Regions from separate parts of the Homo sapiens genome. Here region 1 is linked to region 2. A link means that fine-mapping ties the variant in region 2 to the expression of a gene that starts in the linked region. Tissue or cell type: whole blood. Region 2 holds a variant in brackets; the other region holds the start of a gene. All regions are shown on one strand. Distances are from middle to middle.

Evidence for each region. PIP is the estimated chance that this variant, and not a neighbour inherited with it, causes the effect.
Region 1: VCAN starts here. The variant in region 2 is fine-mapped to the expression of VCAN in whole blood (TOPMed, PIP above 0.99).

The regions. Positions count from the first base shown.
Region 1 is chr5:83,466,684-83,474,776 of GRCh38, reverse strand. VCAN (versican) reads right to left here and starts at 3,033. Exons shown (of 15, transcript NM_004385.5): 1 at 2,754-3,033. RefSeq lists silencers at 1-179, 210-299 and an enhancer at 1,732-2,604.
Region 2 is chr5:83,030,338-83,038,445 of GRCh38, reverse strand. No RefSeq gene overlaps it. Among named protein-coding and RNA genes, the nearest start is that of TMEM167A, 43 kb to the left of the region's middle. The variant A/G (reference allele first, on the strand shown) is at 3,995.

The sequences.
Region 1 (8,093 bases), 440 kb before region 2:
CCCGAATCCTGGGGGCGAGGCCACTCGGCTCTCTCGGTTAAGCTGGGCCCTGCCTTCCCCGCCCCGCCCCCATTGGCCTCGGTGGGTGGGGGCCTCGGCTGCGCCGGCCGCCTGTGCGGCTGTACTGCAGTCTCTGAGCCCAGGAAGTCACACCCGTCTCGGCTGGGAGCCGAAGCGCCAACCCACGTGGCGGCTGGCTAACCCAGCCGCTGCGGGGAGCGCCCGTTGCGGGTCCTCCCTTGGCGCGAGGTGAGCGAGTGGGGGCGGGCCCCAGACCCAGCCCCTTTGGGCGGGGCTGGACCACCTCCGCTTGTCTAGTTCTTTCCCACCCTTCCATCCCGGCACGCCTCTGCAGTCACATTTGTTGCCGCTGGGAAAGGGAAAAGAGTATCCTAAAACGAGTCTCGAAATTCAGACCCAAACCCCGAAACGAACCCTTCCGGTCCGTTCCTGGCTGTTTGAATGCCATCTGCCCCATCTCCGTTCCTTTCTCCTTTTCCTCCCCTCCACGGTCCTCTTTCCTTCCACTTCCCTTCCTTCCCTTTCTTTTTTCCTCCCACTGCCCGCCTTCTCTCCACTTTCCCGTCCGACGCCCGCCCTGAAGTTGAGGAAGTTTAAGTTTTGGATTAGGAGCCCTTCTTTTGCAATATCCTGGGGCGGGGCCCTAGCGTTGGGTTCAAGTGGTCATGGGTTTTGAGAGCACGGTATGTGTATTATCTTTCTTAAAGACGCCCAGGGTGGCGCGTCTAGACCTCCGAAACCTGGCTCCACCCTGGCCATGTGCGTTCGTCCACTAAGCGGCGAACTGGACCCAGGGCGCCGCGTGCGTTCCAGCCGACTCGCGAGAAGGCATCTCTGCACTTTGCACAGACCAAGACCTTTTTTCAGGGTCCTCCAAACTCCTAGATGTACGCCGCAGATTGTGGAGTGCAAAATGAATGACTTAAGGGAAAACTAGGGCCTTCCATCCTTGAACACAAGGTTGTGAAAGATGCTCGCTTGGTCTGGGGGGCTTGTTTTTCTCCGCCTGTGCGGGACTTCTCCATCAGGGGGCGCCCACACCCGCCGCAAAACTCCCAATTCCTAGACATCTAGGTTCTGCAAGTCTTGTGAGCTGAACTGGGGGCAGATCCGAAGGAGCGCACCGCCTCCCTCGCTCCTCCCTCCCTGCTGCCTTGGAGCACGGGAAAGGCAGGGATTTCACACTAGCCATTCATTTGTCAGCTGTGGGGGAGGGGACGCAGAAGCTAGAGAGAGAGAACAGAGGCTGGGAGAGGGGAAGGGAGGCAGAGAAGATGGAGACAGAGGGAGACACAAAGATGAGGAACGCGACCCAGAGAGACTCTGCCGCGGGTGTGCGCGCGGCAGGACAACTCTCCAGGCGCCGTGTAGATTTCTCCCCCTTCCCGCAGCATCTCCCAGGGACATGCAGGACTTGCCGAGACGCAGTTGGATTGGAGAGCAAATAGTTTAGGCTATGACACTATTTTTCTACCCCGCTCTCCTCTGCCTAACACCCAGACCGCTCCACGCCCAGTGACACAGACCGCGGGCCAGAACAACCCGGATGCCCTAGGTCTGCACGCACCAGGGATGTCGCCCTACAGCGCCCACGCCTCTGCAGGACGGTGGGGCGCTCCAGCCGAGGACGTCCCCCGGGGCTCCCGGCACACGCGCGCGCCGCTGCCGCTAGACCTGCCAGTAAAGTTGCTCAACTAGAGCGGAGAACTAGGAGAGGGTGGGGAATATGTAAGGAAACGGAGGACTCCTGTAGTCTGGGCGAGAGGACTGACCCAGAGGCCCCTGATTCGGGTCCCCGAGCCACCTTTGTCTGCAGTGCGCTCTGGGTGCCGGTTTGCTTGTTGAGATGGGAGCGACAGACCCTATTTCACTCTTCAGGGTGAGAAAAATTGTTGCACATCCCTGCCGATTCAGAACAGGCTTTTCCCGCCCAGGGGCCTCCCAGACCTCCGCGGGGCTCCAACAACCCCACCCCCCATCCTCTGCTCCTTCCCTGCTGGCCCCTTCGCACCGCGTGCAGGACAAAAGAACCCAGGGGCGCCGGGAGAGAACCGTGACAGTCCCCAAGTCGTCAAAGAGACACGGCGGGGATCCTGCACCTCCCCCGGCCGGACCTCCTCCCAGACTGCCTGCGGTCTGAAGGGGTCAGGTCCGCGCAAGGTCCCAGGCTGCTTGGGCGCCGGGTCGCACTGTCAGGAGCTGCCCGGGAGTGGCTTTCCAGGAACACCAGGCACTGACCACACACCAGGGGCTGGGAAACCAGGTGGCCTGCACCAAGGCGGCTTCGGGGACTTGTCTGTGGCAAGTCTTGGTAGTCCCCATTCAAACTTTTGCCTCGAGCGTGTTAAGAACAACAACAACAAAAAAATCAAAGTGCCAAAGGTCCCTCTCTTCTCTCCAGCTCAAGAACCCACCACTTTTCTATGATTTCTTTACAATTTATTCCCTCCCTTCCCCCAATTCCGTTAGTCATTTTACCCCCCACCCCACCCTGGGTTTCTTTTGTCTGAATCTTTTTCAACACCAAGGTCCCTCTGTATGCCTCTCCCCAAAAGCCCTTATGAAAGTTACCTGCATTTTTTAAGTGCCTACATTTTCTTAACTTCGCCTTACAGCTCTTTGCCTTAATTAAAGCCTTCTACCAATTGCTTCTTTTTTCTAAGCTCGCGGGTTTTTTTCTATAAGTTTTTTGTTTTTGTTTTTTAAGGGGGGAACAAAAGAAACGTGATTACCTTGGAAGGCGGCTTATTGCAGTTTGGGGGGAAAATTCACTGCAGCGCTGCGCGACTGGGTTCGGCGTTGCCCAGGCGGGTCACATAGGAAGCGTGGTGGCCCGGGGAAGGATGCGGAGGGTGCGGGACGGTGCTGGAAGATGCGGGAGGATGCGGGGCTGGCCGAAGATCTTGGTCCCAGCTCCTGTCCACAACACCTAATGTTCTCGGCTGTTGCGTCCGCACGCCTGGAGTTCTTCCCCAGAAAGGCTCGGGGCAGCTCGCCTGCAAGTTCAAATGCGGGTTGTGACACCCATCATCATTATATCACTGTACCGTCAGAGCCGAGGAGGAGACTCAGCGAGAAGAAGGAGGAGGGAGAGGAGGAGGGTTCATTCACAGGCTCCAAAAGCGCTCCGCAGCTTCAGCCACTCCTAAGAGTCCAGGCTTGGAAAGCAGGCGGAGGGGCGGAAAGGCAGCTCCCCGCGCCTGCGGTAGGGACCGCCTGCCTCCCTCCCCAGGCACTCCCACCTCTTGGCGTTTCTTCCTGACAAGAAGTACCAATCGGCTTGGGGACAGCAGCGCTCCCCATTCAGGGACTCACTCAGTAACATCGCTCTGCTCGCGGAAACCACTGCCCTCCCACTCCTTCCCCACCCCCATTTCCCCGCCCCCCGTGCAGCTAGTTCTGGGTTAGGGGAAAGGAGCCCCCAGGCTCTTAGGGGGCAGGCCAGCAATAGACAATTGAGTACGATCACTTCTTCTCGGGAGCACACAAAACTGTAAAATCAGCAAAGAACTTGGTTACAGCGTGTTTACGCGCCCACAGAGCTTGCCTGTCCCATCAAAGGGAAGTGTCAGGCTCAAGGCTCCTGCCAACCTGAAAGAGACACTGAGAAAACGAGATCCTTCGGGGACCTAGAGGGAAAGTGTAAGAATTCCCCACTGCACTCCCAGGGAACTGCCCAATGGGGAGCCCGGCTTCAAAAGACCCTGGTAATAAAAGGCTGGACAGGAAATTCCCCCAGGCAAATCCCTTGTCGGATTCAAAGAGAATACTTTTCCTCTGCCACAAATCTCTCCCCACATAAGTCTAGATTCTGCTTTCTTCGTTCTTCCTTTCCTTCAGTCTTTCCAAGTATCTCTGAGTAGAATATTTGATAATTTTCCTGAGTAACAGGGACTTCTTGGAAGTATCAATCACCTTTCATGCTTTCCGGAAATAAGACCATAATCTTTCATGCGTATATGCGATTTTTTTTCTTCAGTCAGGCCCACCCCACTGTGTAAACAGCATCAACACATGGAAGAGTCCCCTGCATTGTGTTACAAAAGATTTCCAATAGGACCTTACAGAGAAAAGGGTCAAACAGTTGACACAAAGGATTTCTGTCCCCTTAGAAAAGAGGGACTTTGGATTTTCCTTTTCTTTGAAGTCAAGTATGAGTTTATACAATAGGAACAAAATAAATCCAAGGTGCACATCAGTATAACACTAGGGATACTAGAATGGATGGCAAACTTTTCCTTCTACACAAATATGAAAGTATCCTCACAACTCTTCTCTCTGAAGCCTCTACTTAGAAAATTATATTAAACATAGGACCTCAAAACAGTAGTGATTAAAGATGAAAGCCAATTTTTCCTCTCAACTTCTTTGATTAGTTTGGTTTAAACTTATGCTTTAAAACTTTTAGTAACTTAGACTCCTGTACATGCGCATTTATAAGATTTCTTTTATATTTTGTAATTTGTAGGCATTCAGCATGGTCATTGATTTTAAGTGATAAACAGGTAGAAGACTTGTCAGGATAATTTCAGTTCTCACCATGTGCATCTTTCATTTCTTTTGTTATTTATCAGCCCTCTGCAGTAATATAACTGTCAGTTACATCATTTGGAAATCAATGTGTTTTTGCAGTGAATTATTTATTCTTAGTAAATTTATTGTACTACCATTCCAAACACTGAAATTTGATTTCATCAGATGTTTAGAATGATAGTCACAGAGCAGAATCAGACTTCAACCTTCATGTATAACATGTAAACAAACTAAGGTGCAGAAAGTTACTGTCCCAAAGTCACACAATTAATAGTCCAGTGGTCTTTTCAGTGCTAATCATAGCAACTTTAGATTCAAGATTGCTTGATTCAGGAATGGAGAGAAATAAAATAAAATGAATGTTCATTGAAATATATACTCCAGACATTAAGATAGACCTTTCTGTGAAACACTTCAAGATGTGGATTTGTATTCTCATTCTTAAATTTGAGTAAATCTAGTTGAGTTTCAAAGAGTTCAAGTAACCTGCCCAAGGCCATTTTGTAAGTGACAGATCTGCCAGTCTGAAAAGCTTATTATCTTTTACCCTTTTGTCCCTTTATGATACAGTTAAGTAAAACCTTTCAACAAAGGAGAACTAGATCAGAAACAAGCAACTAATAGCAGATTAATGCCCATTTTTAGGGAAATGTTAATAGTTAACATTCACTATAAATAATGCCATCTGTATATAATGGAACATGATTGAAAGTGATGGGTTAGATACTTTTTACATTCTGAGATGTTTTCATTTATGTTGCCAAATTTGATTCTCTAATCCTCCAAAATTTTTAGTTTCTTTTAATGCCAATAGACTTCACAACACTTGACCAAATACTTCTACAGGACAAAGGCACTTTCTCAGGGCTGACTTAAGGAATTAGAATATGCACAATGTTGAAAAGCTTTAAACTGCCTGTCTTTTCTCTTCTTTGACTTGTAACATTATTATTCAGAAAATTAAATACTTCTTCAGGCTATCAGATAACTAAAATGAAATTATACCCCATGGATATCTTCTTTCTATCTCTAGGGCAGACTTTCCCCTCTAGCTGTCTAAAATGGAGAATGGATAAAAAAGAAAAAGGAAAACATACCAGCTATATTTAGAATAGAGTCTACAGTTGTATTATTATTTCTATGTAACTGTTTTTAATGACTTTCCTTCATCAAGAGAAAGAAAATGAGAGAGCATTTATTTCTGATTCTCCAATGCCTGACAAAACTATCAGAAGTTTTTGAATGGGAAAATATATATTTTTCAGGTTTTATAACTAAAATTGTATTTATTTGTCCATTACACTCAAGTATGAATCAAACAGTAATTAAAATATTATTCTGTGAGTCCCCCTTTAAATCACATCCTTGTACTGGGGATATTCTTTGTGAAAACTCCAAGATCCCAGGTATAAATAAAGCAAGATCTTCATTCACAATGCTTGTGTCTAAAAGAAACCATAAGCCAGAAGCTATGTGCCTTGCTTCCTTGCTTTGATCTTGTCTTTGGGAATTTGGCTGAGCTCAGGGGCAGCAAGCCAATGACTTGGAGAGGAAAGGTGTAGATGGCAGATGTGTCTCCAGGGAATTTTATTATCTTCATCTAAACCTCCTTCTGAGGTTCTTTAGGATTACATTTCAGACTTCTCCTTTTTTATTGATCAGGTGAAGTGTTCTTAGACATGGCATCATCTATTGCTGCTCTAGGGATGACAAGATTCCAGTCCCATTCAAATTCAGAAAGAGCTTAGTTTCAACTCCTTGATCTGACTGGTCCTAGGCACAACTAAGCAAATTATCCTCACTGGATGATACAGTAATGCTACAGATTAAAAATGTACTTTTAACTTTCAAAGACCCTGGAAAAAGGAAGCCTATCCTCTAAGATTGTGTCATAATTTTTTTTTTAAATAAAACACTGCAAATTAGGGACAGACATTTCATCCAGCACTTTGAATTCTCTTTGGCTTTCTAGGAAAGGCAGAAATACAAGGTCTTTATTGCCTTCTTTTTATTCTTAAAAAAGAAATCTTGCAAAAGGCAAAGTGATGGTGGCAATCTCATTGTGCTTTAACCCGAAGTATATAAATTGCTCTGATAAATTAAACACAGACAAATTTCCTTAGAAAGCCATAAAACATTAGATTTTTCCCAGACATCAGATATTGAGTTTTTGCTCTCCAACCCCCAAATCAAAATGTTACAGTAAAATATTTGTTTTAATAAATTTTTTTTTCTCCTGTGCTGTAAATGTCCTGTTCATGGTTGAGCAGATTTCTCTAGAACTTAACTGAAAGACCATCTACATCACGACAGAACTATGCAAGCCAAAGCCAAGTTCCAACATGGAGTGATGGGAGAGGCCGGGCTGCCGAGAGGAGATGACTTCATTAGTGAGAAGAGAGGCTCTCTGAGCCGGTCCTCAAGGCAGCCAAATGGCTCAGCACATCTGCACTCACCCTGGGAGGCTGCCTGGAGCAGAGCATCAAAAACGCTATCTTTTTTATAAAGAAAAAGATGAAGGCATAAAGAACACAGTCCAACTAAATTGAATCAAAGATTGTATCACTCTTACTCCCTCCTTAGTCACTTTCTCAAAGTCTTTTTCTTCTCTCCCCACAGTCTGAAAAATATAGGTCATTTTTATAAAGCATTTGTCTGACTGAAGCAAGACAAACTGAAGAGTCTGGTTTCTGAACACAAGGAAGCGGTAGAGATCTTAGAATCAATGAGGCAGGGCGGAATACAATGCAGAAGGTTTCTTAAGAGGCAAAACTTTTGCAGTTGCTGTTTATTTTCAGTGACTACCCGTTTCCATTTATTTAATTAGACTACAGTGGGACCGAGACAAGGAGCATAATGAAAGCTGCTGCACTGATGGTGCAAAAAGACACATGGCATCATTAATGTCTCTGTGGTGAGCAAAGGTAGAACGCAAGACAGAAAACAAGGAAACCTCTGTGTTGTAAGAAAAGTGTTCAGCATGGGTATCAACCGGCATGTAGAAGCAGCAAGCATACATTCCATTTTTATTCTATTGACAAAAAGAATTGCAGGACTAATGCTTGCTCCTATTAAAATATGAGAAATCACATTTTAATCCTACAAATCAAAGGTCAAATATTTGTTGCAATAATTCCAAAAAAAAGAGAAGATCTGTAAGACTTAGCAAATACTTATTACAAACAGACTGCTTTCAATTTTTTATATTTTCTCTCAATTCAACAAAAGTTTATTGAGCAGCTTTTATGTGCATTGTTTTAGATAGTAGGCATTATTCAAAAAAGTAACAATTATTTTCCATCTTTAAGGAGTTTATAATGTCTCTAGAAAGAAATTAACTCATTGGAGTAGCCAAAGTTATAACTGATCTATAAAATGACTAGTGAACTTAGAGGAAAATTATATATAAATATTTTTGTCTCCATTGGCTGGTTCAGCTAGACATCATTTTAAAAAACATCCCATTGACTACAAATGGATGAAGGAAGGATAATAGTTCAGTAAATCTATCTCCCTTACTGGAAAATCTCTTTCATGCA
Region 2 (8,108 bases):
GAATGATCATCAATTGATGGATTAACCTTGAGTCAGAGGTTGCAGTGAGCCGAGATTGTGCCACTGCACTCCAGCCTGGACAACAGAGCGAGACTCCGTCTCCAAAAAAAAAAAAAAAATCATTTGAATTAATCATCAGTTAGGATTAGGGGGAGGGCTTATTCTATAACACACCCACTAAATTTTGGGGTACCGAGATATGGGTGACAGTGGAGAGCCATTGAAATCCACTTTCCCCCAGACCTAAGGTTGATAATTTTTAGAATATTTTGTATTTTCAACTAATTGCAACTTTTTAACTTTTTTGGTTCCTTAAGGAATAATTAACTAGAAAAAAATAATTAATTGAGCTTGGTTGCCATGTGCTAACGTAGTGCTGGATTTCTGACTGTAGCTTCAGAAGATGCACTTTATCCACTTTCTCTGTCATGTCTACAGTGCACAGAGATTTGTAGCCCTTTAATGTTATCAAACTCACATCCTTTTGTACAGGACCATCGAGCAAACTTGGCTCATCAAATATGTTTCAGATTAGTTGAGAGAAAAAGACAGTAAAAAAAGTGCCAATGATATTCAAGGGAATCAGGTTTATTTGGGGGTGAATGGCATCCTGGCCCTTATTTGTGCTAATTGCCTGGTAAAAGAATTATTTTGGCTTCTGAAGGAGTGGGTATTTTATTTTATTGCTGCTTAATCTTCATTTTCCATATGAGGAGATTTTCTTCAGAAATATTCTGAAAGAAAAAAAAGGTAGTGGAAAAATATAGAGCCATTGGGAAAAAAATGGTTTAATTACATATGTCACCAAAATAAATTAAGGCTCCTTCTTCCAATCCTGCTTCCTTCTAATGACTCTGATAACTGAAGTGCTGAGTTTTATTAAATAGAGCAGAAGAGAACTCTCTGGAGATTAAAGAAGCTATTGAGATTTTCATACCTGCTGAAAAAGAAAAAGTCTCCCTTTTGTAGCTGACAGGCCCGTAATGAGCACATTTTGTAGCTGGAGAGAAAGAAAAAGAAGATGAAAGAAAAATCTTTTGAAGACTGAAGAAAGGGGAAATCCCACTAATATAGTGAAACCCCTTAATTGTTTTCCAAGAGACAGAAAAAAAACACTATTTAAAGGTCACATTGGCTTGTTTGAATTCGTTTGGCTTTCAGAAGATAAATATTGTGTATGGGAATATAAGAATGTCTGCTAGAAACCACTTTTGCACAATGAACAAAGGAATCATCCCTAATATGTGATTAACTGACGTTCCCTGCTCACCACAAATGTTGGCTTTCATAGACTTCAAGTGAAGGGGCACTTTATTAATTGGCTGAAGAATTCCTTAGAACGCCTAAGAGATTAAGACCACAGGATGCTTCAAGGTTCTTTCTTTCTTGAAAAAAAAAAAAAAGTATACAGATTTAAAAAACATGTTGACTGCAATAGCATTATCATCTATCTTAAGTATTACAGAATTAACCTATTGTTAGCCTTCAAAAATTTTCCTGCAACATGTCAGATTAGCTCAATGTCTATTAAATGGCCATTTTGGTTTTTCCTTCACCTTCAAAAAACAAGTCTAATTGTCATAAAATTTGCTCTCTCAAACCCAAATAGACTTTGTGACTTTAAATGCAGATTGCTAAATTATTCCCAAGGCAAGTGAAAGGAAGGATTGCACCCACCGTGCTGCTATTTAAAATGAATTTTAACCCCTTAGGCTGACAACTGACACAAACTCAGATTGCCACACACAGAAGCCAAGGGGTCTGTTGGAATAAGAGCTGCCATTTCCAATAAAAATAGAGTGCTGCAATAATGCCATGGTGAACAAGGTTTGTCGTTGAAATCATAGATCTGATCTAGATGAGATTAAGGGTGAAAAACTAGGGGGATATGAATGAGATTTTATGTTGGGTAGATTTGAGATGCCTTCTACACACTGCTGAGGCAGCCAAGGCTTCATAAACCCTACCTCTCCTCCCGCCCCTTCCTGCCCCCGCCCCCACTCCAATACATTGATTATCTTATGTTTGGAATGATTGATTCTTTTGGTTCCAGGAAACCACCCTGGGATCTGACAGGAAATGGTGGATTGTTTATTTATTTTTCAGTTAGGAAACAAATTGAGCTCCAGAATCTGTGTATTTAAAATTGGGTCTCATTTAGAAGCCACTCAGCAGCATGTATTCTAAATCATGTTCTGCTTATTATAATGTGTTTATTTAGAACTTTATATTTTATCACTGGCTTTATAATTCTTTAAGTCAACCATTCCCTGTATCCTCTTAGCTGCTAACGTCTCAATTCTTAAACACAGTTTGTGCAGCAGGATAGTTCACAGTAGTGCCTTGTTGAGGGGGCTATGTGTCTGTGCTGTCCTGTGTGTCTGTGCTGTCCCAGCCATCACCAGTACGGCTCTCTCTGAAATGTGGCTGAGTGCCCAGAGAATGAACTAGCTACTGCCTGGTAGAGAGGAGAACCAAAGGCTGGCACTTGGCAGGGGCCTGCACTCTTGCAGCTGCTGAGTGCTAAATTATTACTGATGTGTTTCTCCAGCCTTTCTCAGCAGAGCTAGCCTAATGCAGCATGAACCTCTCCTCTGGCCCTTAGCATGGGACTTGGGTTTCAGAGCTGGAATAAAGCAGGCCAACTGAGACAGCTTCTGCCCAGGGCAGAGCAGCACGCACGGCTGTCCTGCACAGATGCTGAAATGCAGTGGACACATGTCCTGCTCTTCATGTGTAGAGACTCCCACCGTGAGCCTAATGTGATCGCTTTAGAAGCTTGGTGGTTTTTACATAGGCATATGAATTGATCAAATTGAGCCTCTGAGGCAAAAATACACCACTCAGACAGAGCCTTTAACAAAGAGCAGCTCCCATAATGCTGAGGAGGGATGGTCTCTCCAGGAGACTACAGGAAAAGGTAGAAGCAGACTTTCTGCTTTCAGCTTAAAGAATCAAGCTCAATCAACCTGTGCTTCTCCAACCTGGCATTTAGGTGTCTTGTAATCTTCTAGTACACTGGTTAGGTGTGATAGCTGTGCATGGTATTTGTAAGAGAGGCAGAGAAGGCTCATACAAAGAGCCTAGGATTATAGACCACCGGTCTAGAACCCCTGTGTGACTATACAACTACAAATAACTTGGCTTCCTGTGCCTCCACTTTCTCATCCATCTCTTGCATGTGTAAATACATAGATTGCTAGCCTAGGTTATTTGATATAATTTTAAGGTAAATCTCCTGCAGTGCCAACGTAAGTGGCATTGCATGAATAGTCAAATCATAAATTATAACACAGTATTTTTATGCTGTCGTCTCCTAACATCCAACACTCAATTCTGCCCATCAGAGTGAGGCAAGCTGTACCCTGAGCCCTTTCCCCAAGGCTCTTACTTGAAAAAACAGGGCTTATCTCTCTTCACATAATTTCCTTCTAAGAGCCACTCAGAGCAGAGGGTGACAGTAATTACTGACAATTGATTTATCTTGCTTATAATGACAAACTTTGGTAAAATTTAGGAATTTATGATCAGATCTACCTATATTACTTATGTAAAACTAAAACACTCTGTTTGGCTTTTCTTTCTTTTTTTCTCAAGATAATGTACTCAAGGAAATACAACTTAAAAAACACAATTTTGTTAAAAATAATTTTTTTCAAAAAAAACCCACACACATTTTCCACACCCCTCCGCCTGCCCGCCAACCAGCTGGAACTTGTTCTTCCTCACTCATCTACCAAGAGGAAATTTACATTTAGCAAAGTAAGATGTCTCCTGTGCATTGTTCATGTTGGTTGTCTGATAGTCTCTGTAGTCCAAACAACTAAGTTGTTAACATTTCATTTTTCTGCCAGTTGCTTTATTGTAATGTGGATACTGCCTTAGAATATTTTCATGCTTTAAAATATGTTGTGCCAAAGAGGTTTGGAAAAAACTACATCTCCAACTCCAAGGCAAACCCATCCAAAAAAAAAGGTAGCATTAGAAGTGCTCT[A/G]TATAGTGGTTCATATTTCCTTATACATTTTAATTTCCTCACTCACAAATCCTTCAAGAAACTACTCTCCAACATTCCTTTTTAAGCACAATCTTCAAGGAAATAAGAGAGAAAAATCAAGAAAGCCTCTTGTCACTGCAGGTGGCTTTTCATGGTGGCAAGAGTCATCTCCGGGAAATTGCCTTAATGTTGCACATATCCAGCTATTTGTGGTGAGAGCCTAGAAACCCACAACAGAGTCTGACAATTTCTCTGAGGGACGTTGTTTGCTTTTGGGAAATCCATTAACTCTTCCAGTCTCCGAGGATCCACTTAATCCAGCACTGTCTAATAGACATGTGAGCCACACATCTATTTTTAAATTTCAAGTGGCTACAATTAGCCATACTAGAATAAAAAAAAGCAAGTGTTATAAATTTTAACAATATATTAAGTTAACCCACTATATCCAAAACATAATTTTGACATGTAAACAGTATAAAAAACTATTAACAAAATATTTTGCTTTTGTTTTTAAAATCTAGTATGTATTTTGTACCAATAGCACATCTCAGTTTTATCCAGCTACATTTCAAGTGCTCAGTAATCACATATGCTAATAGCTACAGTATTGGACAGAACAGAGTTAATCCATTGCTTTTTACCAGGACATGTAATGCTGCCTGAGGGATCCAAAGGAATTAATGTCTCTGAATATGGACAGCTCATTACCTTTTGTTTTTACAAATGTTTTTTTAAAAAGCATTATTAGCAAAGTGCCTCCAAGACACACCAAGACATATAATCATTCATACCTTCAAAATGCAGTGATTCCGGACACTGAGATTATCTCAAATAGTACCAGATCTTACAACTTTGAAAGGTGGATAACAGAATTTCTACTTACTCACAAGATCACATATTTAGATTTCTTTTAATAAAATTTTATTTTAAAATAGTTTTAGATATAGAGAAAAATTGTGAAGATAATACAAAGAGTTACCATATACTTCATGCCCAGTTTCCCCAAATATTAATGACAATAAATTTGTATGCAATATTTGTTATGATTAATGAACTAATATGATATATTGTTATTAAGTAAAGTCCATGCTTTATTCAGATTTTCTTAGTTTTTTCCTAGTGTCCTTTTTCTGTTCCAAGTTCCCATCAAGATACCCTATTACATTTAGTCATCATGTCTCCTTAAGCTCTTCTTAGCTGTGACAGTTTCTCAGATTTTTCTTGATTTTATTAGCCTTGATAGTTTGGAGGTGTGCCAGTTAAGTATTTTATAGGCTGTTCTGCAATTGTGATTTGTTTAATTTTTTTTTTCATAATTAGCATACAATTATGGGTGTTTGGGAGAAAGAGCACAGAGTTAAAGTGCCACTCTTATCACATCAAGAGTACATACTATCTATTATGACTTATGACTGCTGATATTAACCTTGACCACCTGGCTGGGGCAGTGTTTGTCAGGGTTCTATACTCTAAAGTGACTCTAATTTACCTTTCCTTATTTTACTCTTTGGAAAGAAGTTATTATACACAGGGCAAACTTAAGGAGTAGGGAGTTATGCTTCACCTCCTTGAGGGCAGACTTGTTCTTTTGCATGAAAAAATTGTCTAGTCTCGCCTACTTATTCTTTTATTCAATCATTTTTTACGTCATTTGGAGTCATAAATATTTATTTTATACTGTGGGTTATAATCTAATACTACTTGCTTTTGTTGCTCAAATGTTTCAGCTTTGGCTATTAGGAGCTCTTTCAGTTGGCTTCTGTGTCTTTTTGACAGATCCCCATCACTGTGGTCTTTGGGTTCTGTTTGTTTTATTGTTTTGTTGTTGAGAACTGCCTTGCCTTCTGACACTGTAAGGTGCTCCAGGCTTGTCTTGTATATTTCCTGCCCTAGTCCTAGAATCAGATGTTTCTCCAAGGAACCCTGGTTCTTTTTAATGTAGAATGGTTAAACAACAACAAAACCAAGATCTGGGTGCTAGGTGTTTAACTTACTTACAGAGCATTGTCTGTAATTTATAATCAAGTTACTCTGGAAAAAAAAAAAGCAACATATACTATACTGAACACTTTCCAAGTGGCAGGCATACGGTAAAATTTGAAGAACATCTGGAATCTCTAGGAATATTACTAAGGCATTCCTGTCAGTGGCAATGCAGATGTAAGATTAAAAAAAATGTAAGATAAAAAAAGGGCAAACTAAGACTTTTCACAACCTTTTCTTGATGAGTCAAATATGAAAGATGGCAAGAGATTAAAATATTACATACTACCTTAAAAAAAAAAACCACCTCAGTGGAATCTAAAAGAAAATGTGTTGGCCCAAGGGAAGATTACTACTATCAAACTGAAAAAGAATTAAAATTATGCAGTTGTGTTTGTGTGTGTGCTGAATAGGTTGTAAGGGCTTTAAAAATTACTTTTTAAAAACTTGTTCCAAGCACAACGCCTGGTATATAGCATACAAGTGTTTCTTAAACAAATAAACTGGATTATAATTATAATTTCTAAATGTTTCTGCCTAACTTTATTATAAGCATTTAGTTTAATATTATTCAAATAATAAAAAAAAATTTAAGAGGATATTTTTCTGTTCTTACAAGAACAGAAGCTCACACTGAATAATATTTTACTCTGGTCTATTCAGTTGCCAAATCCTTTATACTGTTCCTTTCTTGCCCCACCTGCCCCAGTATCACAAAATCATTAAACAAAATTTTCAAAGAAGTCATGGAATGATCATTTTTTAAGGCAAAGTTAAACTAAGCCAAGTGAGCATTTCACTAAAACATTCCACTGGAGCTGGTCTTGGAGTCATGAAGGGAGGCATTTAGTCCAACTATGGAAAAAGCAAAGCAAACCAGTTCTGGTATTTGGTTTAATTCTTCTGCTTCTAATTGAGTAGGGCAGTGACCTCATGCTAGCCCTGCCCTATGCTGGTTTGATATCCACTCCCTTCAACTGGCCACCCCAGCTTTTTCTGCAGGCTGCTGCTCTCCACACTCGCATCCTTCTTTCTATGCCTGTGTGATGTCTTCAGTCCTCACATGCATCTTGCTTCCACTTGCCCTTAAACCATCAGATATTCTCATTAACACTTCAGTTTGGGGCCTATTTCATCTTTAGAAGAGTCAGCACCCCTGGTGTAATCCAGAAACCATGATCTAGACCTATACTACTTCAGACTTCTTGAACTTTTGAAATAAAACCTTAAAAACGTTGAATTGTTCAACTACATGTGATTAAGGTCCTATATTAAAAGTCTATTTGGGAGTTATCTTAACAAAGGTTTTAAGAAAACAGTAGCCTGTGTTCTCAATTGTTCTCTCTCCCTAGATAATATATTTAAATTAATGTGTATTTCTCTTCTCTCTCTCTCACATACACACACACAGCCATTTAATCCAAGCTTTCATTCAAACCAAGGATCTTTCCACAAAATCCCTGAGAGTCAACTTTTACTGTTTACTAAAACTGTCTTCACTGTGTGGAGCTTACTTCTTTGTGAAGCTTGGTGTTTCATTTGGACAGGCCAATTTATGGAAAGCTGTCCTTCATACTGAACTGAAATTGATCTTTTCATCTGTGCCTATCATTCCTGGAATCAAATGAGATACCATATCCTGAAATTTTTTGAAATGGCAAAGCACTGAATAAATATAAAATATATTAATGTCAGTTCTACTGTATAGAGTTTGAAAATTTGACAAGCACACTGTCCTCTCCAAGTCATTGGAATAGATGAATATGAGAACAGAACAAGAGAGATACTCTGCACAGGTTTTGGAAGTGCTCCTTTCAATTTGATATTAATCCATTAATCAGTATTCTTTAAACTACTCTATTTAAGCAGTGAGAGGCAGGGACCAGGTTAAGCCAAGACCTAGAGAATAAAAACAAAGCCAAAGTAGAAAGAAAACCAGGACCCACCACCACCCCAGGCCTGCAGCAAATACATCAGTGTTCACTCAAGGCCCAAGGACCCTTCAGTCAGCTTGTGATGAATACTGTTGAGCCTGGGACTCTCCCTTCAGGACAGTGCTCCCCTCTAGCCCAGGAAAAGTCCAGTAATACCATCCATGTGCCAAGGCCTCGAATCATGGACCCCAAGA